Linked DNA regions of Homo sapiens. The protein of the gene in region 5 purifies or fractionates together with the protein of the main gene of each other region. This does not show direct contact. Each region holds a gene or a part of one and is shown on either strand. Other genes may lie near its edges. The genes, in order: IQGAP3, ATAD3A, FXR1, NDUFA9, PRDM16, SON and DMBT1.

Region 1 (2,661 bases), about 150 Mb from region 5:
TGTCTCTACTGTCCCCTCCCCAACAGACTTCCCTCCCTACTTTCTGAAAGCAAGGAGGAAAGGAGGGAGCTTTCCCTTCAGAAAGGAGATTTTGATCAGAGTGTAGAATCTACAATACCTAAGGAGTTATGGCTTAAGCACCTTTGATATCACCACCCAAGGCTCAGGAAAAGAACCTGCAGGAACTGTGTGTAAAACGGGTGGGGTAGAAATTAGAGTGGCTTCTCTTCTCAGCTTTAGTCTTCAGAGTGGCCGATAAAAACAGAATAGAAACCTAAGCATTCCTTCCTCCTCTCTGTCCCCCGGGGGAAGGAAGAGAGAATAAATGCCACATCTCATTAAGCTTTTACGATCTCAGGCAGGCAGAGTAGGACCACACCGGAGGCAGGCAGAGGGCTGGGGGAGGCTGCAGGAAGGATTCCCCAGTTCTCTCAGGGAGCTGTGTTCCAGAACTTAAAGGCCGGCTCTACAGAAAATGAAATAAGGGTTAACAACAGATGTGGGAGTAACAGCTGCTTTTATTAACATCAGAAGGGCAACAGTACAGGAAGTTGGGTAGATGTGGGGACAACAGAGAGACTGTGGCAGAGGCAGGACTGCAGATCTATGGAAATTGCCTGGAAGAGTCAGCTGTAAGGGATGAGAATCCTGAGGGTAAAAGAGAAAAGGGAAAGACTCCTCTTTGATCTTATGAAGCTGAAATAACAAGATCTTAAACATGAGTGAGAATCTGTTGCCCCAACCTAAGGTGACTTTAAATCCAAGGTAAAAAACACGGCATGGGTATTAGTTTGAATAGGGAAAATGAGAACTCTCTTTGAGCTCAAAAAAAAAAAAAAAAAAAAAAAAATGAAAGCGTTAAAACCCTGATTAAGTCTGCACAATGATCCAGAGTGTAAGGATGGGAGAAAGAATAAATACCCTAGTGACCCACATATTAAACAGACCACAGACAAGAGAACAAGACTTGAAGCTAATGGAAGGTCATCTTGCCCATGCCGCCATGGGGGGCAACAGTGCCACAATGCCACATGGGCACTAACACACACTGCATCCCCCCAGTCCCTGCCCAGGTTGGAGGGTGTGCAGATCACAGCAGCAGAGCTGCCTAGACTCAGGAAGGGCAGGAACACCCACTGCTGATGCAGTGGGAGGTAGGGATGGGGAGCCTGGCCCTGGCTTTGTGGGAGTGCAGAGAGAAGGAAGGCAGAGGGGAAATCAAGCCGCTGGGGCAGTGCTTGTAATATTGGGGTGACTGTGGGAGGGCAGTAGCAGACACAAGAGTAATGGCTTTCCCAGGTCAAGGTCCATGTCCTACCATCTGGCAGGAAAGCCAGGGGTTTGTCATGCATGATAAAAGCCACACAGCTGGACTCTGGGCAAGGCCCACTTTAGCCAATTAGAAGATACACTGTCTGTGGCCAGGCAGGCAAGCTCCTCCCAGCTGGGGAAGGGGTGAGAATCCCTGGGCCTTGCCCAGTCCTGAGCTCTAGGTGTCTGCAGGGAAGCACAGTGGTGAGTTAGTGTTAAAGAAAGCATCCAGAGAGGTAAGAGGGGCTTGGGTAGCACCCTTTGCCTCTGTCACTTCCGCAAAAACTTCTTGTTGAGGAGGAAGATGAGAAGGTTGACATTGACTTTGGCCTTGTTGAAGAGTTTCATGACAGCCACACCCTCATACTGGAGCTGCAGGAGATCCTAGGAGGGAAGAGGCAGGGAGGGGAGTTTAAGGGCTTCTGAATGTGGTCCAGTCAGATGGTGTACAAAACACTCACATCATGGGGCCTTCTGCAGTCACCAGTGGCACTGGCCACTGAAGTAGGGCATTGAAATCCCACTTCACAAATGAGGAAACTGAGGCAAGAGAGGTACAGTGACTTGATCAAATGTCAACTCAAGCAGAACCAGGGCTTGAAATTGTTTTTCTTATTTTATTTATTTATTTTTTTGAGACGGAGTCTCACTCGGTCTCCCAGGCTACAGTGCAGTGGCGCGATCTCGGATCGCTGCAATCTCCGCCTCCCAGGTTCAAGCGATTTTCCTGCTTCAGCCTCCTGAGTAGCTGGGATTACAGGCAGGTGCCACCACGCCAGGCTAATTTTTGTATTTTTAGTAGAGACAGGGTTTCACTATATTGGCCAGGCTGGTCTTGAACTGCTGACCTCGTGATCCGCCCGCCTCGGCCTCCCAAAGTGCTGGGATTACAGGCGTGAGCCACTGCACCCGGCCAAAATCATTTTTCTTACTCAAAAGGTAAAACATCAGAGCAAAAAGATTTGGATTAAAAACTACTGCTCGGCTGGGCATGGTGACTCATGCCTGTAAATCCCAGCATTTTGGGAGGCTGAGGCGGGCGGATCACAAGGTCAGCAGTTCAAGACCAGCCTGACCAACATGGTGAAACCCCATCTCTACTAAAAATACACAAAAAGCCGGTGTGGTGGCGCACGCCTGTAATCCCAGCTACTCAGGAAGCTGAGGCAGGAGAATCGCTTGAACCCAGGAGGCAGAGGTTGCAGTGAGCTGAGATTGCGCCATTGCACTCCAGCCTGGGTGACGGAGTAAGGCTCCGTCTCAAGAAAACAAACAAACAAAAACCCAAAAAAGCAACAACAACAACCACAACCAAAAACACCGTTGCTTCACTCCTTTCCTGAACACTGG
Region 2 (4,408 bases), 1.9 Mb from region 5:
ACACACAGGCGCACACATACCCCCCACAGGCTCACTGGCACCCGCGCACTCGGGCACACACACAGCCCCACACACACAGGCGCACACCCACACACACATGGGCATGCCCCCCCATAGACGGACACACACACACCCACACACATGGGCGCGCGTACACCCCCCTATACACATGGGCACAGCCCCCCCGCACACATGGGCACGCACACAACCCCCCCACATGGGCGCACAGACCCCACACACACATACGGGCACACACGCCTTCCCGTCACAGGGACACACACACACACCCGCACATGGGCACACACCCACACACGGGCGTACACACCCCCCCCCACAGGCACGCACAACCCCCCCACCCCCCGCACGGGTACACACACACACACACACACACACCCAAACGGGTGCACAACCCACCCACACATGGGCACAATCACCCCCACACACATGGGCACAGTCACCCGCCTGCACATTCGGGCACCGTCACCCCCCGCAAACGGGCACCGTCACACCCCGCAAACGGGCACACTCACCCCCCTGCACACTCGGGCACAGTCATCCCCCGCACACATGGGCACAGTCACAGGTTTTAAAGGCTTTTCTCTTTTTCTGCGGCTTCTTCTCAGCAACTTCTCAATGAGGAGAATTTACGGAAGCAGGAGGAGTCCGTGCAGAAGCAGGAAGCCATGCGGCGAGGTAGGCTGTCTGCTCTCCTGGCTGGGGCGGAGGTGGCGGGGGCTGCTTGTGGACCCGGCGTGCACTCTGAGCCTGAGTTCTGCCGCCCGGCCCCTCATAGCTACCAGTGCAGTGGGCGAGGCCTGCTGGGGCTCCGCGGGGTGGGGCTGCCTCTCGGAAGACACCTCTGTCTGCGAGTGGACGCCAGGATCTGTTCAGGGAGGGCAGGAGCTGCTTCACTTCATGGGAAGTACAGGGGCCTTTTTTTTTTTTTTGAGACGGAGTCTCGCTCTGTCACCCAGGCAGGAGTGCAATAGCACGATCTCAGCTCACTGCAACCTCTGCCTCCCAGGTTTAAGCAATTCTCCTGCCTCAGCCTCCCGAGTAGCTGGGATTATAGGCTCCCGCCACCACGCCCAGCTAATTTTTTTGTATCTTCAGTAGAGAAAGGGTTTCACTGTGTTGGCCAGGCTGGTCTTGAACTTCTTGATCTCATTATCCGCCTGCCTTGGCCTTCCACAGTGCTGGGATTACAGGCGTGAGCCTCTGCGTTCTGCCTAGAACATGGGTCTTTACTGTCCTGGTTTCAGTGGGGATCACAGGTATTTGGTGCCATGTGGCATTTGTTGGCGAGTGCTCCAGGCAAACGTCTGTCACCACTCTTCACCGTGGGTGGGCTTGTGGCGAGGTGTGTGCGTTTAATGTTCAGTAGCCAGGCACGTGGCACGTCACGCGTGTCTGAGTTCTGACAGCTGTGTTTCTGTGTGAGGGGGGCTTCCTTCAGAACTCCGCGTTCTGGTTTTTTGCTTCAAAGAGCTCGTCCTGAGAAGTTGCCTAGGCCTCTGGGTCGGATTTCTGCCCTAATCCATGGGCAGGGCCGGCCTGTGGCGCTGTCCCTACCAAGGTCTGTGTGTGTCTGTGGCATGGACCTGTCCGTGGCCTTAGCCTATTGGCGGCGTGGGCCTGTCTGTGGCGTGGGCCTGTCCGTGGCCTTAGCCTGTCAGCAGTGTGGGCCTGTCCATGGCGTGGGCCGGTCCGTGGCATGGGCCTGTCTGTGGCGTTGGTCTGTCCGTGGCGTGGGCCGGTCCGTGGCGTGGGCCGGTCCACAGTGTGGGTGGAGGTGGACGCGCTGCACTGCATGGTGCTGAGCTGCCCTGCCTCTCTGGGGCAGCCACCGTGGAGCGGGAGATGGAGCTGCGGCACAAGAATGAGATGCTGCGAGTGGAGGCCGAGGCCCGGGCGCGCGCCAAGGCCGAGCGGGAGAATGCAGACATCATCCGCGAGCAGATCCGCCTGAAGGCGGCCGAGCACCGTCAGACCGTCTTGGAGTCCATCAGGTGAGCACTGCCGAGGCCCGGGCCGGCCACAGATGGAGCCCCGCAGGTGTGAGTCGCTGGTCCCAGGGCGCTCTCCAGCTCTTCCAGGCCTTGCCGCCGTAGGCTGACTCCTTGGTGGGGGCACTGCCCCTCTGTCCTGGCAAGGCCGTGCCGCCATGTCAGGGCCTCACCCTCAACCTGCTCTCGCTGCGTGGCACGGATCTTCGTGTCCTTCCTGGTCACACCACTGCTTTCCCCGCAGGACGGCTGGCACCTTGTTTGGGGAAGGATTCCGTGCCTTTGTGACAGACTGGGACAAAGTGACAGCCACGGTAAACATACTCATAAAACAGGGCTGGCAGGTGGCTGAGGGGCAGCATGTGGGGGCCTCCTGGAGCCCCAGGTCCTGTCCCTGCCGGCTCTGCACAGCCCTGTAGCTCTCCCAGCAGGGAGGAAGCCCACGTTGTACCTGCTGGCCTCGGCTTCTCCTCCCTTCTCAAGCTGGGAGAAGAAAACGCAGTTGCCAGCCTGGGCCACACAGTGAGACCCCATCTCTACAAAAAATCAAATATTAGCTGGGTGTGGTGGCAGCCCCTGTGGTCCCACTACTCAAGAGGCTGAGGTAGGAGGATCACTTAAGCCCAGGGAGGTTGCAGCTGCACTGAGCTGAGATCGCAGCACTGCACTCCATCCTGGGCGACAAAGTCCTTGTCTCAAGAAAAAAATTGTCGATAGTCGTGGCTCACACCTGTAATCCCAGCACTTTGGGAGGCAGAGGCAGAGGCGGGCGGATCACGATATCGGGATCGAGACCATCCTGGCTAACACGGTGAAACCCCGTCTCTACTAAAAAAATACAAAAAATTAGCCGGGCGCAGTGGCGGGCGCCTATAGTCCCAGCTACTCAAGAGGCTGAGGCAGGAGAATCACCTGAACCCGGGAGGCGGAGCTTGCAGTGAGTCGAGATCACGCTACTGCACTCCAGCCTGGGCCACATAGTGAGGCTTCTTCTCAAAAAAAAAAAAAAAAAAAAAAAAAAAAAAACCAGAAGGCAACCCTGACTCCATTTTGCAAAAACCTTCTTTATTCCTTATAAAACCCTGAGAGTTTGAAGTTCACAGATTCTTCTCTCGTTTAAAGCCTCACTCTTTTGTGCCCAGCCTCCGGCCTGCTGTGGTGGCGCCCCACGTCCCACATGGCTGTGTCCTCCGTCCCCACCCCGCCCAGCACACGGTAGGTGCCCGGCACTGAGTGGGCACTTGCTCTGCCGTGGTGCCGGCGCCCAGAGCTGTGACTGCAGCGCCTGCCGGTGGCCTGGTCAGTGTGACGGTGAATGTTGCAGGTGGTGTTGCCACCATGTTGGTGAGACCGTGTCACGTGAGGACATGACGGAGCTGCTTAATGCGCCGATGACTTTTGTTTGTTTGTTTTTAGAGACAGGGTCTTGCTCTGTGGTCAGACTGGAGTGCAATGGTGCCATCTCGGCTCACTGCAACCTCCACCTCCCCAGTTCAAGCAGTTCTCCTGCCTCAGCCTCCCAAGTGACTGGGATTACAGGCTCACGTCACCACACTCAGCTAATATAGGCCTGTGCCACCAGGCCCGGCCAATTTTTGTATTTTTAGTAGAGATGGGTTTTCACCATGTTGGCCAGGCTGGTCACGAACTTCTGACCTTAAGTGATCCAGCCGTCTTGGCCTCCCAAAGTGCTGGGATTACACGGGTGAGCCACCGGGCCTGGCCTAATTCATTTTTTGTTTGTTTGTTTTTTGAGACAGAGTTTTGCTCTTGTTGCATAGGCTGGAGTGTAGTGGCGCGGGTCCAGCTCATTGCAACCTTTGCCTTCCGGGTTCAAGAGATTCTCCTGCCTCAGCCTCCCAAGTAGATGGGATTACAGGCATGTGCCACCATGGCCAGCTAATTTTTTGTATTTTTAGTAGAGACGGGGTTTCTCCATGTGGGTTAGGCTGGTCTTGAACTCTTGACCTCAGGTGATCCACCTGCCTCAGCCTCCCAAAGTGCTGGGATTACAGACCTGAGCTACTGTGCCCAGCCAGCCTAATTGATTTTTAAAACGAGTTAGAGATTTTGGGTTAGTCTTGTTTTCCAGGAATAAAGTACCATTTTTAGTGGCCAAGAATGTACCAGAGGGTGTGGCCCTGTGACATCCGGCTGGGTCTGTCCAGGGCCCCGCTCAGCGACCGAGGCTTTCTAGGATTTATGCTGCCAGTTGCAGAGAAAATGGCCCTGAGTGAGGGCGCTGTGACTGCCCCACCTGCCTCCTGTAACCGCGTGGCTGTGGGATTCGGGGCCGGGAATTCGCGTTCCTGTGGGGCCAGTGCACGGCCCTGTGCTTCTCCCTCGGGCGGAGAGAGGGTGGGGGCAGCCCCGTGCGTCTCCTGCTCTAAGAGGGAGGGACG
Region 3 (4,408 bases), on a different chromosome or scaffold from region 5:
CAGTATATTCTAAGTAAACCTTCACTGAGAAACACTCTACGAGGGCTTTTCCTGATACTGCTATATGGTCCACTACTTTCTCTAAGACAATGAGTAGCAAGAGAAACTTCCAAAAATGGGTGGCCCTGGGAGATGAATTAACTTTTGTAAAATTAAACTGTTTACAAATAATGGATGCTGACAGAGTATAGAAAAGACTACCAGAACTGATGGAGGATTTGCCACCACGTGGTCCACCACGACCTCGACCCCCTGAAACACTTCTGCCTCTTCCTCCTGGGCGTCTCCTGCTGTCACGCTGATGTCGGCTGTCTCGATCATCTTCTCCTGCCAATGACCAATCACTCAGCTCGTCTTTACGCTCAGATTCCGTTTCAGAGGGGTTAGACAGCTCAGAATTTGTACCTTGGAAAAGAAAAGAACATAAACCACTTAGATTTCTATAAAAAGCCTTTTAAAATGTTCAAAATTATGTCCTACAAATTATTGTTTAAATAAGCAATACTGTTTGGCTGCTTCAAAGAAAGATCCATGAAAGTTAAAATCAATCTGAAACGTACTAAGGAATAATCAATTATTATACTATTAATATACTAGTATAGTATCTACTAGTTAATACAGATTAAAAAATAAACTGATGTGCAGAAGGCCGCTCACTTCTTCAAAACCAGCAGAAGAATCCCTCACTGCAGTCTGCTAAGATGTGCTATGTCATGTAATATAGTCAAAGGTGTGACCATCTCATCAGCAAAAGGGGATAATATCCAGGAAATACAAAGTCATGGAAGTTAAAAAAAAAACTGATGTGCAGAAATGCAGTCAACAGAAAAATTACAGAAAATATACAGAACATTAATTCCTAGGTTTTGGCACCAAAAAAAAAAAACCATACAGAACATCATTTATCAATATTAGAATGTACTTAGTATGGATAGTCAAATGTTTCTGCTGATTTGGGTTTTAGTAACCTAAATTATTAGTACAATAAAAATAACTTCAATATTTGAGTAAATTAATCATATTTAGAAAACTGAATAGTTTAACTGTATAGTGTATTTCACCATAATTTCATTGATTCTAGGGTATACTTTTCACATGTTAACATCTCTGAAATCAAGATATTTCTTATAATTGATGGCATCTTTATTATAAGCTAGAAGTAATTTTTCCAGTAGGTTGTATATAAAATGATGGCATGTTTTACTAGCATCTTAAATTGCGGTTTTTGCCATTAAAAGTAACTACTTTTACTTTTTGCTTTTCTTACTTTTAATGGCAAAAACTGCAATTACTTTTGCACCAACCTAATATTTGCAATTACTAAACAGAATTTAAGGTTTCTCTGAAACAGAAGGTCTCTCACCTGACAACAGAACTGAAGCCATGACCAGTGAGACAAATATTCAGCATTGCCTTTAAAAGTTTACAGACCATTTCTAACACTGCAACTATTGTAATGGTGACCTTTCAAAAATTTATTTAAACACCACAAAGATATAATCAGAGGCCTACATTATCATTATTTAATAATTACTGTAACTCAAATGTCAGATACATATGACTCAATCACTATCATATTCATTTCCACTTGTTAGTTCTGGGATGCCACTTCTTCTTTCCCTCTTATATGACCAAATATATCTCCTTCAGGGCCTAGTTCAAATTCTAACTTCAGACCACTGCAACTAAGACAGATCTCTCCCCATTTTTTGTTATCCTAAAATCGCCCCACATCTATCACAGACTGTGCCATGTTGTTATTTTTTCCCCCTGTGGAATTACTTCAAAATTGGTCTATGATAAAGGGTGGAACTCCATCTTATATGTCCTCAAATGCCTGGCAGAGTGTATAACAATTTTCTCAACCAAATAATTTGCTGCATTATTTTGAAGTTCATTTGCTAAACTCTCAGATAAGAGTGATTTCATGAAATACCTTGAAGTTCCCTATATTTAAACTCTGCAATCATTTGAGGAAAAATGCAAACAAGAGCTCTTCAGACATAAGAAGTTTTAAGTATTAAGGTGCAGGGAATAAAATGTAAAGTTTTATACATGAAGGTGCCTCACTTCCTTTCTCCTTTAACGATAACTCTAGGATGCCTACCTTTTCTCTACATGGTGTTAATAGATGTAACTAGTCAATTATAAAAACAATTAGGTAATTAGTTGGATGTGTATTTTTCAAAGAATACATCAAATTTCTATTACTCACTTTCAATTCTTTGTTGGGATTAGAATCTCAGGGAAGGGAATTAATTTCCCCTAACATTTATTTCACCAAATGACAAAAAGTACTTTATTAACAGGATGTCATAAAAGTTGTAATGAAGGCAATTTATCTTTCCTTGAATAGTGAAAAAAAAAGCCTTTCAGAATGTTTAAGAACTTCTGAATTTATTTACAAACCTATACCCTACCTGAAAACATTACCAAAATTCAGGGCAAATGAAGAATACTTCATTCTGAAGACTCTCTCAAAAGTTCATATTGAAGTATCCTTAGAAATCCAGTGTAGTATTTATCTAACCCCGTGTCACAGCAAGTAAAGTCTTCCTTAAATTTAACCTACATATAGTATTCAAGAGACTTAGAGGGAATGTCTAAATCATAGATTTCAGCAGGTAAAACAGATATTGAGGCCGTACCCCCCAAAATTTTAATGTATTGGCTAGTGCTCAACATTACTCATATTAAATAACTGTTAATAACACATATTAAATGTTTCTGTGATAGCAAAAAGGACTCTGCAAATGTGACTAAGGTTAAGGACCTTGAGATAGAGAGATTATCCTGGATTATCCAGGTGGGTCCAAACTAATCTCACTGGGTCTTTAAAAGTAGAGAAATTTTCTAAACTACTGAAAGGGGAATCCCCGCTAGACTTTCCAGAAAGAAACGTAGCCCAGCTGACAAGATTTTAGCCTAGTGAGACCCATGTCAGCCTTCTGACCAACAGAACTATAAGATAATAAATTTCTGTGGTCAAGCCTCTAAGTTTGTGATAATTTATTACTGCAATAGAAAACAAATACTCTAATAAAATCAGGGAAACCATTTATTCCAGCCTCTCAATTTTGTAAAACACAGGTTGGTGATTCAAAGTCGTTTTTTTAAACAAGCTTTAAAAGTAATGACACTAGGCCAGGCTGGTGGCTCACGCCTGTAATCCCAGCACTTTGGGAGGCGAGGTAGACAGATCACCTGAGGTCTGGAGTTTGAGACGAGCCTGACCAACATGGAGAAACCCTGTCTCTACTAAAAATACAAAATTAGTCAGGCATGGTGGTGCATGCCTGTAATCCCAGCTACTCAGGAAGCTGAGGCAGGAGAATCACTTGAACCCAGGAGGGAGAGGTTGCGGTGAGCCGAGATTGTGCCACTGCACTCCAGCCTGGGCAACAAGAGCGAAACTCCGTCTCAAAAAAAAAAAAGTAACAAAACATAATGACATCGTGTTTTTAACCAATTTTAAAATCATATTTTCCCCTCAAACTTCTAAAATCACCTTATGAAGATGGTTTATATCATTTTTCAATGGTTGGTTGTGCTAAGCTTAACAGCTAAAAATAATCACGTTTTATCGACTCCAAGAGGCCATCAATTTTAAGACATTATTTTATGTGCCATTAAAAAAGAAAATGCTGCTAAAGTTGTAAGATGTCCAATTTAACACACATACCAACTTCAGAGATGTTATACTGGGAAATGTTTCTTATAGTTCCTATTAAACTGATAAAACTACAGTACTCATTATATATATATATATATATATATATATAAATCAACTACAAGTCCCTCTGATATAATGTATACATGAACGTCTACAACCAAATTCAAATGGTTTTTCTTGCTTTTCCAAGCCCACTCAGGTTCAGTAACTATTTCAAGAAATAAAATGTTATCAATTCCACTAAGATTCAGAGCTAAGAGTGCCATCTACTGAACAATTTGCACAGCTTTCTTGAATCCAGATGTTTCTCTACCTCTCACATAATTATCTACTCTCAACAAAAGCATTTTGCCAGAGTAAGCTCTCATCAATAAGCCGACTTCCCACAAAAGCTAATAAAATTATTCAATGAATTCATCATACGCATCATCCAATAAGCCAAGTCTGATTATCTATGCTAATAATGTATGGTTCAAAAATCAATGAGAATATATTTGATTTCTATGTGATTACTGGTTAACTGTCTTTTGCATTAAACATTTTCAGAAATATAATAATAGTCTGCAATTTTCATCCCTTTATATGCTGAACACTTCTTTATTAGAATTTTGCTGTTTAGGTTTCAATACTGCATTAAATAAAAACATATATAAGAAAATGAGAACATAAAGATATGATATTAAAGGGCAGGGACACAAACTTACAACTCTACAACAAATTGAAGATAGTTCAGGT
Region 4 (4,408 bases), on a different chromosome or scaffold from region 5:
CAGTGGGCCATGTCATGGGCATACATAAGCCAACTCTAACTCAATTTTATATACAACCATGAAAGTGCCTCACTGCAATCTGGCTTATATCCCTTTCACGGCACTGAAGCCACGGTCACAATGGTCATTTGTAGACATTTTTTGGTCCTTTATCTTATTTGACTTTTCTGTAAGACTTCATTCTACCAATATTAACAGAGTGCCTAATGTGTACCAGGCATTGTTCTAGGGGCTTGAGATACATGTGAATGAACAGCAATGTTCCCCTTCTTAAAACATCGATTCTCTCCTGAAAACACTCCATTCCCTTTGGTATCTAGAATTCCAAACTCTCATTTCCCACTTAAATGCCTGATCACTTTTTGGCCTTCTTGTAAGTTTCTCTTACTCTGTGGCCTCCTCTTCCACTCACTCCACATACTCTCCTTACTTACTTTATAGATAACTGAGTATTAAAGGAGACAAAGTGAATAGTCTGAAAGGTGTAACACTCAATAAATATCGTTATCACCCTGCATTCTAGTGGTCTATTTTTCTGGTACCCCTGTTAGACCATAAGATTTTTGAGTTTTTGTTGTAACATTCTGACCATAAGATTTTTGAGTGTTTGTTGTAACCTTCTGAGTACCTAGTACATTATCTAAGACATAGTAGGCATTCAATAAACATTTGTTGAATGAATGGATGAAAACCCAAATGAAGATCAGTTTGTGGCACAATGGATGTGACAGTCTCCTTAACCAGACCACTAGGGTGTGACATGGTAAGTTCAAGATTTTATTTTATTTGGTTCAAATCAGGACAATATAAAACCTAGGACGAGAAAGGAGCTCCCATCAACAGTTACCTCAGGGCAGTAGGTTTTTCTTTTCTTTCTTTTTTTTTTTTTTGTTCCAGAGACAGGGTCTCACTATGTTGTCCAGGCTGGATTCAAACTCCTGAACTCAAGTGATCCTCCCACCTCAGCCTCCCAAGTAGCTGGGACTATAGGTGTGCACCACTGTGCGCAGTAGCAGTCACCTAGGCTGGAGTGCAGTGGCACAATCTCAGCTCACTGGAAGCCTTGAACTCCCAAGCTCAAGCAATTCTCTTGCATCACCCCACCTCCACCCCAGTAGGTGGGACTACAGGCAGATGCCACCACATCCAGCTAATTTGGTATGTTTTGTAGAGATGGGGCTTCGCTATATTGCCCAGGCTGGTCTCAAACTCCTGGGCTCAAGCAATCTGCCCTCCTTGGCCTCCCAAAGTACTGGGATTATAGGCATGAGCCACCACTCCCAGCCAAGTCAAAGATATTTAACCCACAAAGAGAAGAAGTAAACTAAGAAGCAGGGAAAGAAGAGAAGGCAACCACAAATCCAAGTCTGAATTAGCCTGACTCCTTTCCCCAATAGCATGATCAGGTTGATTTAATAATGAGCGACATGAAACACAGGGGAACCTGACTGCCCCTTACATATGTGCCTAGCAAGATATTTCTCCAAAATTAAACTCGATGGTTTTAAATTGGAGAAAGTGAAGAACTGCATCTTCACTTTTGGGAAGTGGGAAGATTCACTTTTGGGAATTGGGAAGATTTAATGTTCCAATATATTTTTTTTTAACCAACACTAATCTATTTCTGCTTCTTCTCTATGCTAATGTCATAACACTAGGAGATCTGGAGACCAGCCCTTCACACACCCTATAACCCTAAGGGAGAACATTAGGAACAAGTGTGTGGAGCTGGCTTTTTCAGAAGTCACACAAAAGGAGCACTCTACTTACCGATAGGCAAAAAGCGGCAAGGGGAATGGGAGGAACAATCTGTGAGCCACAGCAAAGATGTACTTCACCAGGTGGAAAAGGAGGTACCGACTGGGACTATAAAAAGACAATACACAGTTCTTTCAATTACACGCTTCTCACAAAGTTTCCTTTATAACAAAATAACATTTTCCTTATAAAAAAGGAAACATATATGCACTGTAGTAGATACAGAATAGCACAAAGAAAAATCACCCATAATCCCATTATGAAAGATAGTTAATATATTTGATCTATATCCTTCTCATCCCCTTACATATATACATTATTCTGCTTTTAATAAATACACAATCCATTCTATTCCGTAATGTCTTTTTCATTTAACATTACATCATAATCGTCTTTCCACATCATTATTTTATTGCATGTTTCATGACAACATATTACACTGCATGTAATCACAATTATTTTATCAATTGCCAGTTTTGAGATATTTATGCTATTAAAATTTTTTTCTTTTATAATGTTTTAATGAACATTCTTGTAATAAATATTTGTACTTATCCATGATTACGCATTTAGAATATATTTGTAGAAGTGGAACTGGGTCAATGTAGACTTTAAAATTTTAAGGCTTTTATTGAATACTTCTAAACTGCTTTTCAAAATGGTTCTATCAATTTATATAAAATGTTAAGTATATAACATTTTAGATAATTATATAAATTATAATTATATATATGTAATTATATATAAGAATGCCCCCTCCACCCGAAATGAGTTGTCATAAGAAAATAAAATTTTTGCCAATCTGCTAGGTTAAAAAAAAAAAGGTATCTCATGTTTTAATTATTATGTCTTTAATATGAGAGATCATTTCTTCACGAATTTTTGGTCATTTATACATCTATCTTTTCTTTCCTCCTGGAGTCCCTGTCTATAAAAATAATTTGTAAGAATTCTCTATATTTTAGTGATATTGTTGGAAATACCTTTTATTGTTTGTATTTTAACTTTTAGTGTTATTTACAGTGTTTTGTGCACATAAAATTTTAACTGTTTAATTTAACCAAAACTACTGATTTTCTTTATGGCTTGGATTCATAGTTAGAAAATTCCTCTGCAGTGACATAAATTTCTACATATTTTGTCTAAACCTTATAAAAAAGATTTTTTTTTTACTATAAAGTTCCTTCTGTGACGTATTTTTGTACATTATATAAGGTAAACATGTAATTATATTTTTCCCAAGATGTAAGCCAATTGCTTCAATGCTACTTACAGAATCATTTACTGTACTGCCTCTTTCCCTATACTGAAATGTCACCCTTATCACATACTATATCCTTACATATAATGGGACTGTTTCTGAACGTTCCGCTCTATTCCATTAATCTGAATAGTTCTGTACGATTTTAACCTAGCATTAATAAGTATCAGTGCTTATAATGCATTTTAATATTTCTTTACCCATTTCCTAATTCATTTGCATGCTTCATGACAGTAAATCTGTGACAACCAAGAGCTGAGTGAAGGTAATTCAGTGAGAACCTCATTATTCTGACATACTTTACTAAAAAACATGAAACTATCAGCCAGGAGAAATATCAGACAAAGGCCTTAGCAGGGTTCTTCAAATTCCAGAGGGATTTGTAAGGATCATTACAGGACATATAATACATGCTACGCCAAGAGCAACTTGAATTTTTACGATGACAAACAAAACTGGTATCATGGGTTAACTAACTCTACATAATAGGTTTCCTTTTCAGCTGTTCTGAAGCACTTTGTGTTCCATCAAGTGCAACCGGAACACTAGTTTAAGTGCCCTTCCTCACAGCCAAAGGTACATTGAAGCCCGCATCCTCCCAGCTTAGATTTCAAGGCTCAGCATCACAGTTATTCCTCTGCAAATATCCTCAGCAAAATCTTGTCTCCCAGGCCCCTACCCACTATACTTGCTAAGCAAAACTCACTCTGGTTGACCCAAACATGTGCCTTCTCTGAGCCTGAAACCCCAGAAGGACAAAACTGTAGACGAAATACAATTGAACTGATTGACTTCACCTTATTTTTTTATCAGTAATTTCCAATGGAACACTCAGTTCTGCTTGGCAATCCCACATGTTCTCCTAGGAAATGCTCTTTCCTGTTCTCCCAGGGCATACTTTCTATCTTCTGTCCTCAAATTTTCCACACACTTTTCTGACCCACTCCATCCTGCCTTTTAGCTAACCTCACATTCCAACAAGAAAAGATACTCCTAACATTCCCACAGCCAAACCTACCTGCATCTGCATATATCCTTGAATTCTTTTCCTTGTTAAAGTTGAAGAAATGTTTGCCTTTTACAAAGGTCAAACCCTCATTTGCACTCTGTATCCAACTCCTCTCAATTCCTGAAGGACTTTGCTCCTTTTCTGTCGGCCTCATCTCCTGAGTCATGAAGTGACATCTCTTTCCTGGACCATTCTTACCAATTTATAAACAAGATGTACCATCTTCCAAATCCAGGGTGGTACCTCCCTTGACAAGACATTCATGTTTCATAGCCTTCTCTTTACCCGTTTCCTTTGCTCCCTTTTACAGGGAAACTTCTCCAAATAGTTACCTAACTGTTGCCTCCACTTCCTATCCTGCCATTCAAATCTCACTGCAA
Region 5 (3,827 bases):
GTGGGGGTGGGAGGCCAGGTCACCTGGGTGACATCAGTTAAACTCTGTGTCAGCAGGGAGCCAGTGGGGGCCTACGTGGGTGAGACGGTTTGGGGCAGTCCTGGTTGGGGAGGCTGGGCTCGGTCTGGCTGGACATTCCCCTTTGAGGTTTACGCCCCCTAGGCTTCTGGGTCAGAGCAGAATCAGGGTAGGGGAATGGAGCCTCTCCCAGAGGCAGGAGGGCCCCAGGAAGGAATCCCAGGGGCAGTCTGGGGGTAGACAAGAGAAGCCCCTGAGGGGACTGGGTCTGCTCCAGCCCCGGGGCCTCTAGCTCACCCCCTATCCCACCCCTGTGGCTGTCCCTTGTCAGGGCAGCATCAGGCCATGTGAGGTGCTGGTGGACACAGACTTCAGGGAGGCTGACATGGGGAGGGCCACCCTTAGGAAGGGGTGGGTTGAGGACTGGCCTAGAACAGAGGCCCCCAGACCCCAGGCCATGGGCCAGGACCAGTTCTTGGCCTGTTAGGAACCGGGCCACACAGCATGGGGGGCGCAGCGGAACCCAGCTTCCTCTGTGTTTACAGCCACGCCCCATCGTCTGCATCACCGTCTGCACTCCACCTCCCATCAGATCAGTGGCGGCGTGAGATTCTCATGGGGGCGGGAACCCTATTGTGAACTGCGAGTGCGAGGGATCGAGGCTGCACGCTCCTTGTGAGCATCTAATGCCTGATGATCTGTCACTGTCTCCCATCACCCTTAGATGGGAAGGCCTAGTTGCAGGAAAACAAGCTCAGGACTCCCACGGATTGTACACTATGGTGAGTTGTAGAATTATTTCATTATATACTCTAATGTAATAATAATGGAAATAAAGTGGACGATATATGTAATGCATTTGAATCAGCCCCAAACCATCCATCCCCTGGTCTTTGGAAAAACTGTCTGCCACGAAACCAGTCCCTGGTGCTAAAAAGCGTGGGGACTGCTGGCATGGAAGACGGGTTCCCCCAGCACCTCCAACAGGGAATGCTGCATCCCCAGGAAGCCTTGGGGCAAGGCCTGTGGGGTGGGCCCTGGGTCCTGTGTACCTGGAGGCAGGCACAGTTGGGGGACATGCCTGGAGGCTGCTGCATCTGGAGGCTGTCATGCTTGGCAGAGGGACACACCTGGAGGTCACTGTGCTCGCTCTGGGGCCATCCAGGGAGTTGATGCCTTCCTGAGCTTATTCTTTTCTGGAAAATGGGAATAGCCAGGAGTCTGCCCCGGAGGGTGGAGGGAACAAAGCTCCAAGGGCATCAGGGCCTGGCCCCGGGACTCCTCAGTCAAAGCCAGGGAGCCTGGACCTCGGCCGAGCCCTGGCTTGCTCCTCCTCTCCCTTCCACAGGCCTGGGGCCTCTCCCTCAATGAAGCTCGCGGGCACCGAGGCTTAGAAAAGCACACAGATTTATTGCATATCAATCTCATGTATAAATTCATTGGAGCATTGGAAAGATTACATTTGGTATACAGTCCTATTCTACAGCATTAACCTCCAAATCGGCTTCTCCTAGGCTTTCTCTTAAGGAAATGTCTCTACACAAGTACATTTGTGTTCATCACAAGCATCAGAATGCAATTTGCAAAATTGTTCTTTTCATGATTTCCTACACTTCACGTCTTATTTCATTCTTCTCCCACAGCGATTTCCGTATTAATTGGGAACTGCGCCTCTTTCGCGTCAGCAGTTCAGGACTCCTAGTCTCAGACGTAGATCCTAATCACATATTCAATAAGTGCATCTACAGAATTTTCCTTTTAATAAAAATTTCACCAACAGACACGATAATGACCGCTAAGCAGGAGTCATGCACAGTTTACTTATAAACAGAACAGAAGCAATTTACAATCAAGGGGGACATGGGGCGAGCGCCAGCCTCCTTCTCAATGGTCTTTTTAAACATTATATGAAAACCAGACATTTACATTTGATTTCTTTTTCAATACTATACAGTTCTAAAAGAAAAAACAAAACAAAACAAAACTAAACCAAATCTGTAATGTAACAATGGCAGAAGGTGGCGGGCGGCACAGGTCTGTGATTCTGCGAGGATTCTTTATATCGACCTTAAGGGACAAAGTCCATATACACACACGCTTTAAATTACGACTCTGACACCAGGGCTCAGCATCCCTCGTGCCGAAAGCGCAGTGGCAATGCACGTGACGCTGAAGGCAATTGTTAGAATGACTTTTGTTCACAAGTGAATCACACGTTTGGAAACTCAAGCTGCCTTTTATTTATTTATTTATTTATTTTTTTCCAAAAGTGGTAATACGGATCAGTGACAGAAAAGAACAAAACAAACACAAAAATGGAATGGAAGGAGCAGAGGAACTCTTCTAGGAAGAATGCAAGGATGGTTTTGTCACAGTATCACTCATTGCTACAGAGACACAGTTTCATGGCTTTTGATACCCGGCTGACCTCCACTGACCAGGAGCAGCTATGTCCTGGCGTCCCTGGCTGGGAGGAGAGCCTTGCCCTCCCCCACAAGGCTGCAGTGCAGGGGCGAGCTCTGCTCTCCCTCCCCCTAGGACAGCACAGTGAATATAGCTCAGTAGGTTTCAGTCACTTGGGCAGGGGGACGGGACAGAGGGGGCAGGGGACCACAATCCAGTGCTTTGAGGCTTCGAGTCTAAAATACGTGATATGTATTCAGGCAAGTGTTTTGCAGACGCTCATGGGGAAGCGGGGAAGGCAGAGGACGCCAGGGCCCTTGGAATTTCCAGGGCTGGACTCTGGGGACGTGGAGGTCTTGGCCAGTCGGGGTCTGGATGGGACAGCTGCACGCGTGGCCTTGTAAAGGAAGGCCTCTCCAGCTGGGCAGTCTCTCAGGCCACACCACGCCCACCCCAGCCACTGCTCCACACCCCAGGGCCCCAGGCAGGGTGCAGGGGCTCGATCCTCTGGGTTGAAGTCAGTGATATCTTGGGTCCCACTCATGAAGGGTCTGCCAGGCCCACAGAGGAGGAACCCCACGTGCCCAACCTGGGGATGAGAGCAGGAACGGGTGGGGACGTCGGCTCGCTGGGGGCTGGGGTCTGAGGAGCAGCGGAGGGCAGGTGCGAGGAGGCCTCCTTCGGAATTTCCATTTGGGGGATGGGGGTTGACAATCCAAGGAGTTAGCATTGGGGCAGCATTTGGGCTGAACGGAAGGGCCCTGGACCCCTGGCTTGCAGCCCTGACCCTGGCCACCTGGCCATGGACACAGCCAGCTGCCCCGTCGCATCCCTGTCCATGCTGCACAGTTACATGGCCCCGTTACGGTGTGGTGACAGCTGGAGGCCAGAATCTCTGAATTCTCACACCCGGGCCAGGCTCCCTGGCCCTTGTCATCTCTGGGCACCAACACTGCTGGGCAGAGCAAAACTGGGAGGGCGAGGCTCGCTGGGGCCTGGGGCCACACTAAGTGTCGGGGCCGTGTTTTGGGGCGCACCAGCCCAGGAAATAAGTGCTGCCTTTGTCAGGGGCTCTAAGAACAGGGCCTCCTGAAAACGCCAAGTGCTGGGGCCTGGGGGTCTGAATGCTCAGGAGAAACTGGGCTTGCCATCATTTTCAGGGGGACGAAAATATATGACTTAAAACGTGCAACCAGGACTCTTGGGAAAGGTGGAAGGAAAGAGCGCCAAGAGAAGACAGGACGGTTAGGAAGACAGCCGAAAACGGCGGGATGGGACTGGGGGATCCGGAGACCAACGGTAAGGGCGGCTCTCATCGGTTCTGCTCCTGCTGAAAAGACACGCTGAGGGCTCCATCCGTCCGAATGTCCCACTTCAGAGAGACGGGGTCATATTGCAAAAAAAAA
Region 6 (4,408 bases), on a different chromosome or scaffold from region 5:
AACTTGGGTATCTAACAAAAAAGAAAAAAAAAAAGGAAAAAACTATAGGCATCAATATTCTGCTCTAAGTTACAGCTATGATCAAACCACTGGCTCAAAGTTTTTCAGCAGTGGCCTCATTCAGGGAATTAAGTCCACATATTGAGCTTCCCATTAGAATATTACAATAGGTTACTACACAACTATAATGATCACCCTACTACACACACTCTAAGATATAAACCTGCCAAAGCCTATTTCATTTCACAAAATTATCATGACCTTACTCTCCTTCTGACACCTTAAATCACTCTTTGAGCCCCAGTTCAAGTGCCACCTCTTTTTTTTTTTTTTTTTGAGACAGTCTCACTCTGTCGCCCAGGCTGCAGTGCAGTGGCGCCATCTTGGCTCACTGCAACTTCCACCTCCCAGGTTCAAGTGATTCTCCTGTCTCAGCCTCCCGAGTAGCTGGGACTACAGGCGCGTGCCACCACACCCATCTAATTTTTTGTATTTTTAGTAGAGATGGGGTTTCTCCACATTGGCCAGGCTGGTCTCGAACTCCTGACCTCAGGTGATCCACCTGCCTCGGCCTCCCAAAGTGCTGGGATTACAGGTATGAGCCACCATGCCCAGCCGAAGTGCCACCTCTTCTAACAAGCTGTCATTAAGTCAGAATTAACATTCCTTTTCCCCTTTTCCCATTGTGTTCCTAAAGTACCTCACCTCTATCAGTATTATAGTAATCACATTCTGTCCTTTTTAGACAGTGTTACTATAAGAGAGACATATATGCATTTTACCCATGTCTCCTCCACCACTTGCAATCACTTGAGGAATTACATACTGTTCCTCTGCTGTGAATAAAAAAGAACTCAGAAAACTTCTGTTGAACTGAATGCAGATTCTCCCTTTTTACTCTTAACCTCTTCTTCTTTAGACAATCCTGGCCTAGAAATGTCCAGTATACTGGGATAAGGATAAATTATCCATATTTATTATAGGTAATCATTCATATCGATCAAGTTTTAATCACCTCTGCACACTAAAAATCAGGGGAAATTAGAACAGTTATCTTTAAAGTAAAGCAGAACAGGTTATTAAAAATCACACTGATCTAAAATATTTAACTTTATTTAGCTAGTATCACCTACCCAATTAAATAACCCCCACACGCAAAATTCCCCACTCACTTCCATTACCAACTATACCAATCAGAATTACCTTCATTTAACAGTCCTATAATGCCATTTTAAGATATGTTAACTTATTTAAAAAGGAACATTGTAATTTTAGGCTTAGTTGCAAGGATGTATGTTAGAACACATACAATAACAATCTGAGCATATACTTAGCTTGTTTTTAATTTAGCTAGAGTTCTACATCTGTTTCTGCTTTCAATTTTTAGCTATGGCAAGATAACTAAAACAAAATAAAACATTCAAATATGGAAACACCTTGGTTCTATTATACTCTGAAACAGGACTTTTTAACTCTAATTATAATACACTGATCCCAGTAGTTCCTAAATACAGTACCATGTAATAATAAAAACTTAAAGACAGAAACATTTATCCTAAACCAGTAACTAAGTATTTCACTTGACTCAAGGTCAGAAAAAAATTAAGGTTTAAAACATTTTCTACTACCATCCCATTAAACTTTAAAATGACTCACCCAAATCTGTCAGACGTTTGGGTGATCTGCCTCGTTCAGAAGACCTGGATCTTTTACGACGGATGGGAGATCTGCTAAACCTTCTTCTTAAGGGTGTTCTTGATCGCCTTAATCTGACTGGTGAGATACTGAAGCTTCGTCTTCTTACCACAGACCTTGATCTTCTCCGGCGGCTTGGGGTGCGGCTCCGACGGCTAGGGGTGCGGCTCCGGCGGCTGGGGGTGCGGCTGCGGCGGCTGGGGGTGCGGCTGCGGCGGCTGGGGGTGCGGCTGCGGCGGCTGGGGGTGCGGCTGCGGCGGCTTGGGGAAATGCTAAAGCTCCTTCTTCTACCCACAGATCTAGACCTTCGTCGACGACTTGGAGTATGACTCCGACTCCGACGACTTGGGGTTCGACTTCGAGCTCTAACTGTCTTTCGGTTATCCCTGGAGCTTGATCTTTTTCTTTTTCTTTCCCTAGACTTGGATCTGTGCTTTGGAGATCTTTTGCGCTTCTCTTTTGATACAGATCTTCTTCCTCTAGACTTTGATCTTGATCTGCTGCTTCTCCTCCTGCGTCTTGAACGTGACCGTGAACGTGTCTGAGAGCGATGAGACTTGGACTTAGATGATCTCTTTCTTGCCCTAGAACGAGATTCACTGGTACGCTTGCGTGATTTGTGTTCAGAAGATTTGGAACGCTTACTTCGAGATCTTAATGAAGAGTCTCTTTTCTTCTCTTTCTCCCCCTTATCACGGTTCTTATTTTTCTTGCTTTTTTCGTGAGTGTCCTTAACTTTTACAAAAATTTCATAATCATCTTTTTCCTCTGAAGAAGACTCTGAAGCTCTTTCTGGCATACTACTTACAACCGGGCTGGCAGCAGATCTGTCACGTCCAACATCACTTGCAAGTAAAGGTCCTTCAATGCCAGCTCTAAGGCTTGTAAGACGTTCCATGTCCTTAGGAAGTAACGGTCTCACTAAATCTGCTTCATTAATATCCTCAATATTGGCAGAAAATCCTGAATCAGGCAGTGTCTCTTTAGGAGGGGGAGGTACTTCTTTTTCTCCTCCACTACTTTCTTTAGGGCTGAGCAGAGCTGCTAATGTCTGGTCACTCTCTTTTACAGGTAATGGTTCTTCTGTATCCTTACTAACAAGGTTATTATTAGATGGTAAATCAAGATGAATATCTTTAGCAGGCAAAGGCCCTTCAATGTCAGCTTCACTACCACCACTAGGACTGGTGGAAATTACCATGTCATGTTCAGTATCTTGAGTAGTTAAAGATAAATCAACATCATATTTATTAACTAAACTGAGAGTAGATGCTGTGGTAAATTCAATACCCTTACTAGTTCCTGTTGCATCAGGTTCCAGAGCAAAAGGACCAGTAGAAGATAGAGTTTCTCCTGCATCAGCTTCACTAACACCAGGGTAGGTATCCAATACTGTGCGCTGTTTAGTCTCACTGGTGGGCAAAATTTTCTCTTCACCAATTTCCCCAACAGGACTAGTACCAGCAGCACACACTGTATTATGTTCCATCTCTTTAGCAATTAAATGATTATTTATATTAAGGTCTATATTTATACCATGTTCACTTTCGTAAAAGTCACCTTTCAGGTGTTCCTCAGCATGTGGTTCTTCACCTGAATGCAATGCAATCTCCTGCATGCCAATCTCTGGAGCAAGATTTTGATCACCAGAGGATAGATTAATTCCTTTCATAACATGTGATGACATGATACTAGATTCCAGTATCATTGGTGTGGACTCTATAGCCACCTCAGTTGGTATTACTTGAGTCTGCTCTGAGACTGTGACAGCAGGCTCTGAAACTGTCACAGTCGATTCCTGGACAGAAACAGATGGTTCTGAAACAATCATAGAAGGTTGAAGGACTGACACCGCTGGTTCCAGAACAGGCACAGAAGGCTCCAGCGCAGAAACAACTGGCACAGGAATGGTAACATAGTCTGGCTCAGCCACAACAGGAGGCTCCGGGACAGTCACAACCGAAGGCTCCAGGACAGTTACAGTCGAAGACTCCAGGACAGTCACAGTCGAAGACTCCAGGACGGTCACAGCCGAAGACTCCAGGACAGCCATAGCTGAAGACTCTGGGGCAGCCATGGCTGGCGGCTCCAGAATGCTCTCTGCCAGCACTGGAGTAGTTACTGCTGGAACCAACAAGGATGTAGATACTTCTGAGGCAACATGTCCTGAGGCTCTCATGGAATCAAATGTTTCTGCTGTCTCTGACATAACAGGAGGCTCTGATGCTAACACAGTTGGTTCAGCTGACATGGCGGGAGTTTCAGATACCATACAAGTCACTGGTCTCTCTGGAACAACTTCATGTTCTTCTGCTACTACTGCAGACTCTACAGGTGTTAACGTAATTGAAGATTCTGGCTCTGGTGGTGGTTCTGGAACAGTCACAGCAGCCTCTGATACTAAAACTGAGGGATCTGATGCTGACACTGAATAATCAGTAGGCACTGCTGAAGGCTCCGAAATCTCACTTTGACTCACAGGAGGCTCAGGCTGCGATACAGACTCTTCAGATGGTGATGATGGCACCTCTGTAGGCCAAGTATTTTCAGCTGTTAATGCTGACTGCTCAGTGGGCAATGCTGGACCCTCTGGTGGTTCCTCAGGAGGCAATGGTGGTGTCATTGGTGGCTCCTCAGGTGGCAACGGTGGCATTGTTGGGGGCTCTTCAGGAGGCAAAGGTGGCACCATATATGCCTCTGTATATGTGTCAGT
Region 7 (4,408 bases), on a different chromosome or scaffold from region 5:
GCCAGGTGGAACCCCCAGTCTGCACCCTTTGCTGCCTTCCCAAGGGCCTGCCCACACAGTCAGTGCCAAGAGAAAGAGAATGGGCCGTGCATCGCTGAGGCCCTTCTTTGATTTCCTTGGGGAACCATGGTGCCCCCAAAGAGGCAGCTGGGTAAATCCACCAAGCCTCATAGGCATGGTCTAGTGTGCACTTACCGCTTGGGAAGGAGTTATACCAAGCCAAAAAGCCAGTGTTTTGGAAACTGATGTCACTTCGAAAGTGAATGGTCATTCGGTTGTAAGAAGATGTAAATATTTGCCTGGTATCATTACAGATTTTCCCCAGCAGGAGACTGCTATTCAATGATCCATCAAAGATTTCAACATAATCAAAACTGCAGTTATGGTGTGCCTCCAATCTGTATGGAGAAAATGTATTCAAGTCAACATTGAAATTCCTATTGCCCCTCCATTTTATAAATAGTTTGCACTTTACGAGGGATGCCATTGAATACAGGTTTTTCTTCTAGCTCTTCCTCAATTAAGTCAAAGGACATCAGTGTTCCCTGATGCTTTATGGTAGGAATCAAAGCCACCAAAAGCTTGTCCATGGCACATGAGAGTGAAAAGCATCCCAGCCCAGGACACAGTCTAAACCAGTGGGTGTGCTGCAGAGGAACTCACCCCTCACCAGATGACCAGGCATTACTTACTTCAGATTACTGAAGCCCAGGTTTATGCGATAACCAGAATTCACTTCTATTTCCCAAACACACTTAGCATTGTTGGGGTAGTATGCAGGGTAGGATGGGCTGGAGAATGTCCCACTGGCATAGAATAAGAAGCCACCACAATTTGAAGAGGGTCCTAGAGAGGAGAGAGGGGACATCTCCATTGTACCAGGTCTTCAGGTATTTTGTGACAAGGAATCATCTGTGTAAGTATCATCCAGTTTCATCTTCTGCACTTTATAACAAGACTTAACTTTCCCTGTAAACAAGTCCCCTCTCTTGGGCCTGGTTCTAGGTGGCCCAACATTAGAAGCTTTGATTCAAGTCCCTGCTTTCCCTGTTAGGCCTGGACAGCAACCCTCTGCGAGGAGGTGACCCAAGCTTCAGAGGGAGCATGTGTCACCTCTAGCAAAAATGCCAAGAAAGCAACAAAGTGACAGCTATCATTGTTCAATCAGCTACAGACAGGGACGTGGGATAGTCCTGGCTGAACACAGTGCTGACCCGTGGAGAGCACTCCATAACACAGTGTGTTCCCTAGCGTCTTCCATGAGCACAGGACTCTGCCAATTCACAAGTAGCACAACGTTGGGTTAGGAGCAGGGTTTCTGCAACAAGAAGCCTGGGTTTGCATCTTGGCTCTGCCTCTATCAGCTCCATGATCTGGAGCCAGTTACTTAACCTCTCTGCCTCAGTTTCCTCATCAGAAAAATGAGAGTGGTAATGGCATCTGCCTCATCTGTCTGATGAGGGTATTAAATAAGATATGTATATATGAACATTTATACATAAACATAAGATAGGTTTCTATGTCTATATAAACTCTTAGAGAGTGCCAGGCACATAAGCACCCAGCAATATTAGCTATTGTTATTTATCAGAAAAGGATAAATATTAAGTGGTCAAACATTTTGTTGGTTGGTTTATAGTAATAAAAACTTTTTAAAAACATGTGCACACTCAGTGATAGAAATTAAAACGTCTTTTTTTTTCTTTTTCATAACTCTTTGTTTACTTTTTCTAAGGGGATAAGTCCATGGTTTTTAGCATACTGAGAGCTCTGAAATCACCACAGTCAATTTTAGATTATTTTCATCACCCCAAAAAGAAACCCTGTACTCATTAGCAATCACTCCCCATTTCTTCTCAACACCCTCCATTCCTGGCACCCACTGATCTACTTTTCTGTCTCTATAGATTTGCCTATTGTGGACATTTCATATAAAACAAATTGTACAATATGGTAGTTTTTTTGACTGACTTCTCAATGTGTTTTCAAAGTTCATCATGTTGTAGCATAAATCAATATTAAATTCTTTTTTTTCTTTTGTTTTGTTTTGAGATGGAGTTTCGCTCTTGTCACCCAGGCTGGAGTGCAGTGGCACGATCTCAGCTTACTGCAACCTCCGCTTCCCGGGTTCAAGCGATTCTCCTGCCCCAGCTTCCCAAGTAGCTGGGATTACAGCCGCCCACCACTATGCCCAGCTAATTTTTGTATTTTTAGTAGAGACAGGGTTTCACCACGTTGTCCAGGCTGGTCTCGAAGTCCTGACCTCAGCCAATCCGCCCATCTTGGCCTCCCAAAATGCTGGGATTACAGGTATGAGCCACCGCGCCCGGCCACTATTAAATTCATTTTTATTGCCAAATAATACTCCACTGCATGGACATATCATATTTGTTTCTCGATTCACCATGATGGACATTTGCATTGCATTCACATTTGGCTACTATGAATAAAGCTGTCCTGAACATTCACATACAAGTTTCTGTATGGACATATGTTTTCATTTCTCCTGGGTATATACCTAGGAATACAACTGCTGGGTCATATGGTGACTCCAGGTCTAACCTTTCGAGGAGCCACCAAACTGCTTCTCAAAGTGGCTGTACCATTTTACATTCCCTGCAGCCGTGCATAAGGTTTCCAATTTCTCCACATCCTCATCAACACTTGCTATTATCTGGCTTTTTGACTACAGCCCACCTACTGGGTGTTTCATTTGCATGACCCTGACGGCTAATGACATTGAGCATCTTTCCAATGCCTTCTCTGCTATCTGTGAATCTTCTGTAGAGAAATATCTTTCAGGTCTTTTGCTCATTGTTCAGTTGGGTTATTTGACTTTTTATCATTGACTACAAGAGTCACTTATATATCCTAGATACAAGTCCCTTATGAGATAGAAATACGTTCTCCCATTTGATGGGAAGACAGTGTTTCTTGAAGATCATGTGGCCTGCCCTCCCTTTCTATTTCTACACTGGGAAATAATTAAGGATAAAGTCAAACTTTCAGAGACAAGGATACGAGTTACATATTTCTAATCATTAAATATAAATGGTTATAAAATATGCTATTGTATATAGTCACTTAACATTATAAAATATAATTGGAAACAATGTTTTTGCCCCACAATTAGTAACCGTTTAACTAAATGATGATATATCTATACAGTGGAAAATCATATAGTCATTAAACCTTCTTCTATACAAATAATTTCAATGTTATAAAAATGCTAATTTTAAGGTCATGAAAAAAGTATTATATACACTTAAATGAAAATGATGGGTTATACAATGGGATATAAAGCATGCCATACTGTGTGTGTGTGTGTGTTTGTGTGTGTGTATACAGTGTATGGAATGTATGCCAAAATGCCAACAGTAATTATGTATTTATTCATTAATTTATCCATTCATTCATTCACTCATTTATTCCTTCAATAAACAGTTCTTGAAAGGCAGACACAATGCTAGATAATAAGGATACATTATGAAAAAGGCAGACATGGCCCCTGCCTTCAGGAAATGCAGTTTGGCAGAAAAGATAAACATGATCTTTTGCAAATATATTTCCAATTAGCTAATTCTCAAGATTAAAATCTTTCTGCAGCCTCCCTACCTTTAGGATAAAGATGGGAGTCTTAACCCACCCACAAGGCCCTGAATGATCTGGCCTCACCCGACAGATTTCCTGCAGTCCCTCCTTGCCCGCACCCCACCCTCCTTCAAAGAGCCAAGCTCCTTCCCACCCTAGGGCCTTCAAAGCATCCCTTCTGGTTAGAAGACACTTCAGCAAATGAACCTGCTCCTCTATTAACTCCCAGCTTAAATGTCACTTCCATAAGGAACTTCCCCTAACTCCCCAATCAAGGAAGATCTCTACTAATACTTCCTCTTTGCACACTGAACTTTTCCTTGGAAACAGTTGTCACAACTGTAATTTTCTAGTTTGTTGTGTACAAAATAATATTGTGAGCTCTGAGGAAGAAGATCAGTTTGTCTCTTACATCATTCCATAATTTTACAACCATTCTTGATGGTAGTTTGACCATACACACAGCAAGATCTTAAAATACCTAACACAGTAAAAGTTAATATGCATGAAGTACATTCTATGTACCAGGCACTACAATGACATTGACTTTGGTCCAGTAAACCCATTTATATCCTAAAGGAAAAATTAGTGAGGTATGCAAAAAAATTATCTATAAAAATATTCTTCATCACAAAATCATTTACAGTAATGAAGAAATACAAACAAATATCTAGCATCTGATGATTTGTCAAATAATTCATGGCATATCTGTATAATAGAATACAATACAGGGACTTAAAATGATTGTGAGAAAAGATTTAATAACACAGAAAAGTATCCCTATTATTTTTTAAAAGCAATGAAAATCTATTGAAAC

Evidence for each region.
Region 1: the proteins of PRDM16 (region 5) and IQGAP3 purify together in Homo sapiens (affinity purification with mass spectrometry, with the first as the bait; one large-scale study listed by BioGRID). This does not show direct contact.
Region 2: the proteins of PRDM16 (region 5) and ATAD3A purify together in Homo sapiens (affinity purification with mass spectrometry, with the first as the bait; one large-scale study listed by BioGRID). This does not show direct contact.
Region 3: the proteins of PRDM16 (region 5) and FXR1 purify together in Homo sapiens (affinity purification with mass spectrometry, with the first as the bait; one large-scale study listed by BioGRID). This does not show direct contact.
Region 4: the proteins of PRDM16 (region 5) and NDUFA9 purify together in Homo sapiens (affinity purification with mass spectrometry, with the first as the bait; one large-scale study listed by BioGRID). This does not show direct contact.
Region 6: the proteins of PRDM16 (region 5) and SON purify together in Homo sapiens (affinity purification with mass spectrometry, with the first as the bait; one large-scale study listed by BioGRID). This does not show direct contact.
Region 7: the proteins of PRDM16 (region 5) and DMBT1 purify together in Homo sapiens (affinity purification with mass spectrometry; one large-scale study listed by BioGRID and IntAct). This does not show direct contact.

Annotation. Positions count from the first base shown.
Region 1 is NC_000001.11:156,524,905-156,527,565, forward strand, and holds the end of IQGAP3 (ras GTPase-activating-like protein IQGAP3), read right to left. Parts: intron 1,696-2,661; coding exon 1,582-1,695; 3' UTR 501-1,581; downstream 1-500.
Region 2 is NC_000001.11:1,518,298-1,522,705, forward strand, and holds part of ATAD3A (ATPase family AAA domain-containing protein 3A), read left to right. Parts: intron 1-623; coding exon 624-693; intron 694-1,843; coding exon 1,844-2,009; intron 2,010-2,250; coding exon 2,251-2,320; intron 2,321-4,408. UniProt on the Homo sapiens protein: Essential for mitochondrial network organization, mitochondrial metabolism and cell growth at organism and cellular level. May play an important role in mitochondrial protein synthesis. May also participate in mitochondrial DNA replication.
Region 3 is NC_000003.12:180,964,048-180,968,455, reverse strand, and holds part of FXR1 (RNA-binding protein FXR1), read right to left. Parts: intron 406-4,408; coding exon 202-405; intron 1-201. UniProt on the Homo sapiens protein: mRNA-binding protein that acts as a regulator of mRNAs translation and/or stability, and which is required for various processes, such as neurogenesis, muscle development and spermatogenesis.
Region 4 is NC_000012.12:4,679,663-4,684,070, reverse strand, and holds part of NDUFA9 (NADH dehydrogenase [ubiquinone] 1 alpha subcomplex subunit 9, mitochondrial precursor), read right to left. Parts: intron 1,867-4,408; coding exon 1,771-1,866; intron 1-1,770. UniProt on the Homo sapiens protein: Accessory subunit of the mitochondrial membrane respiratory chain NADH dehydrogenase (Complex I), that is believed not to be involved in catalysis. Required for proper complex I assembly.
Region 5 is NC_000001.11:3,436,203-3,440,029, reverse strand, and holds the end of PRDM16 (histone-lysine N-methyltransferase PRDM16), read right to left. Parts: 3' UTR 1,409-3,827; downstream 1-1,408. UniProt on the Homo sapiens protein: Binds DNA and functions as a transcriptional regulator. Displays histone methyltransferase activity and monomethylates 'Lys-9' of histone H3 (H3K9me1) in vitro.
Region 6 is NC_000021.9:33,552,640-33,557,047, reverse strand, and holds part of SON (protein SON), read right to left. Parts: coding exon 1,657-4,408; intron 1-1,656. UniProt on the Homo sapiens protein: RNA-binding protein that acts as a mRNA splicing cofactor by promoting efficient splicing of transcripts that possess weak splice sites.
Region 7 is NC_000010.11:122,626,278-122,630,685, reverse strand, and holds part of DMBT1 (scavenger receptor cysteine-rich domain-containing protein DMBT1 isoform e precursor), read right to left. Parts: intron 847-4,408; coding exon 693-846; intron 399-692; coding exon 196-398; intron 1-195.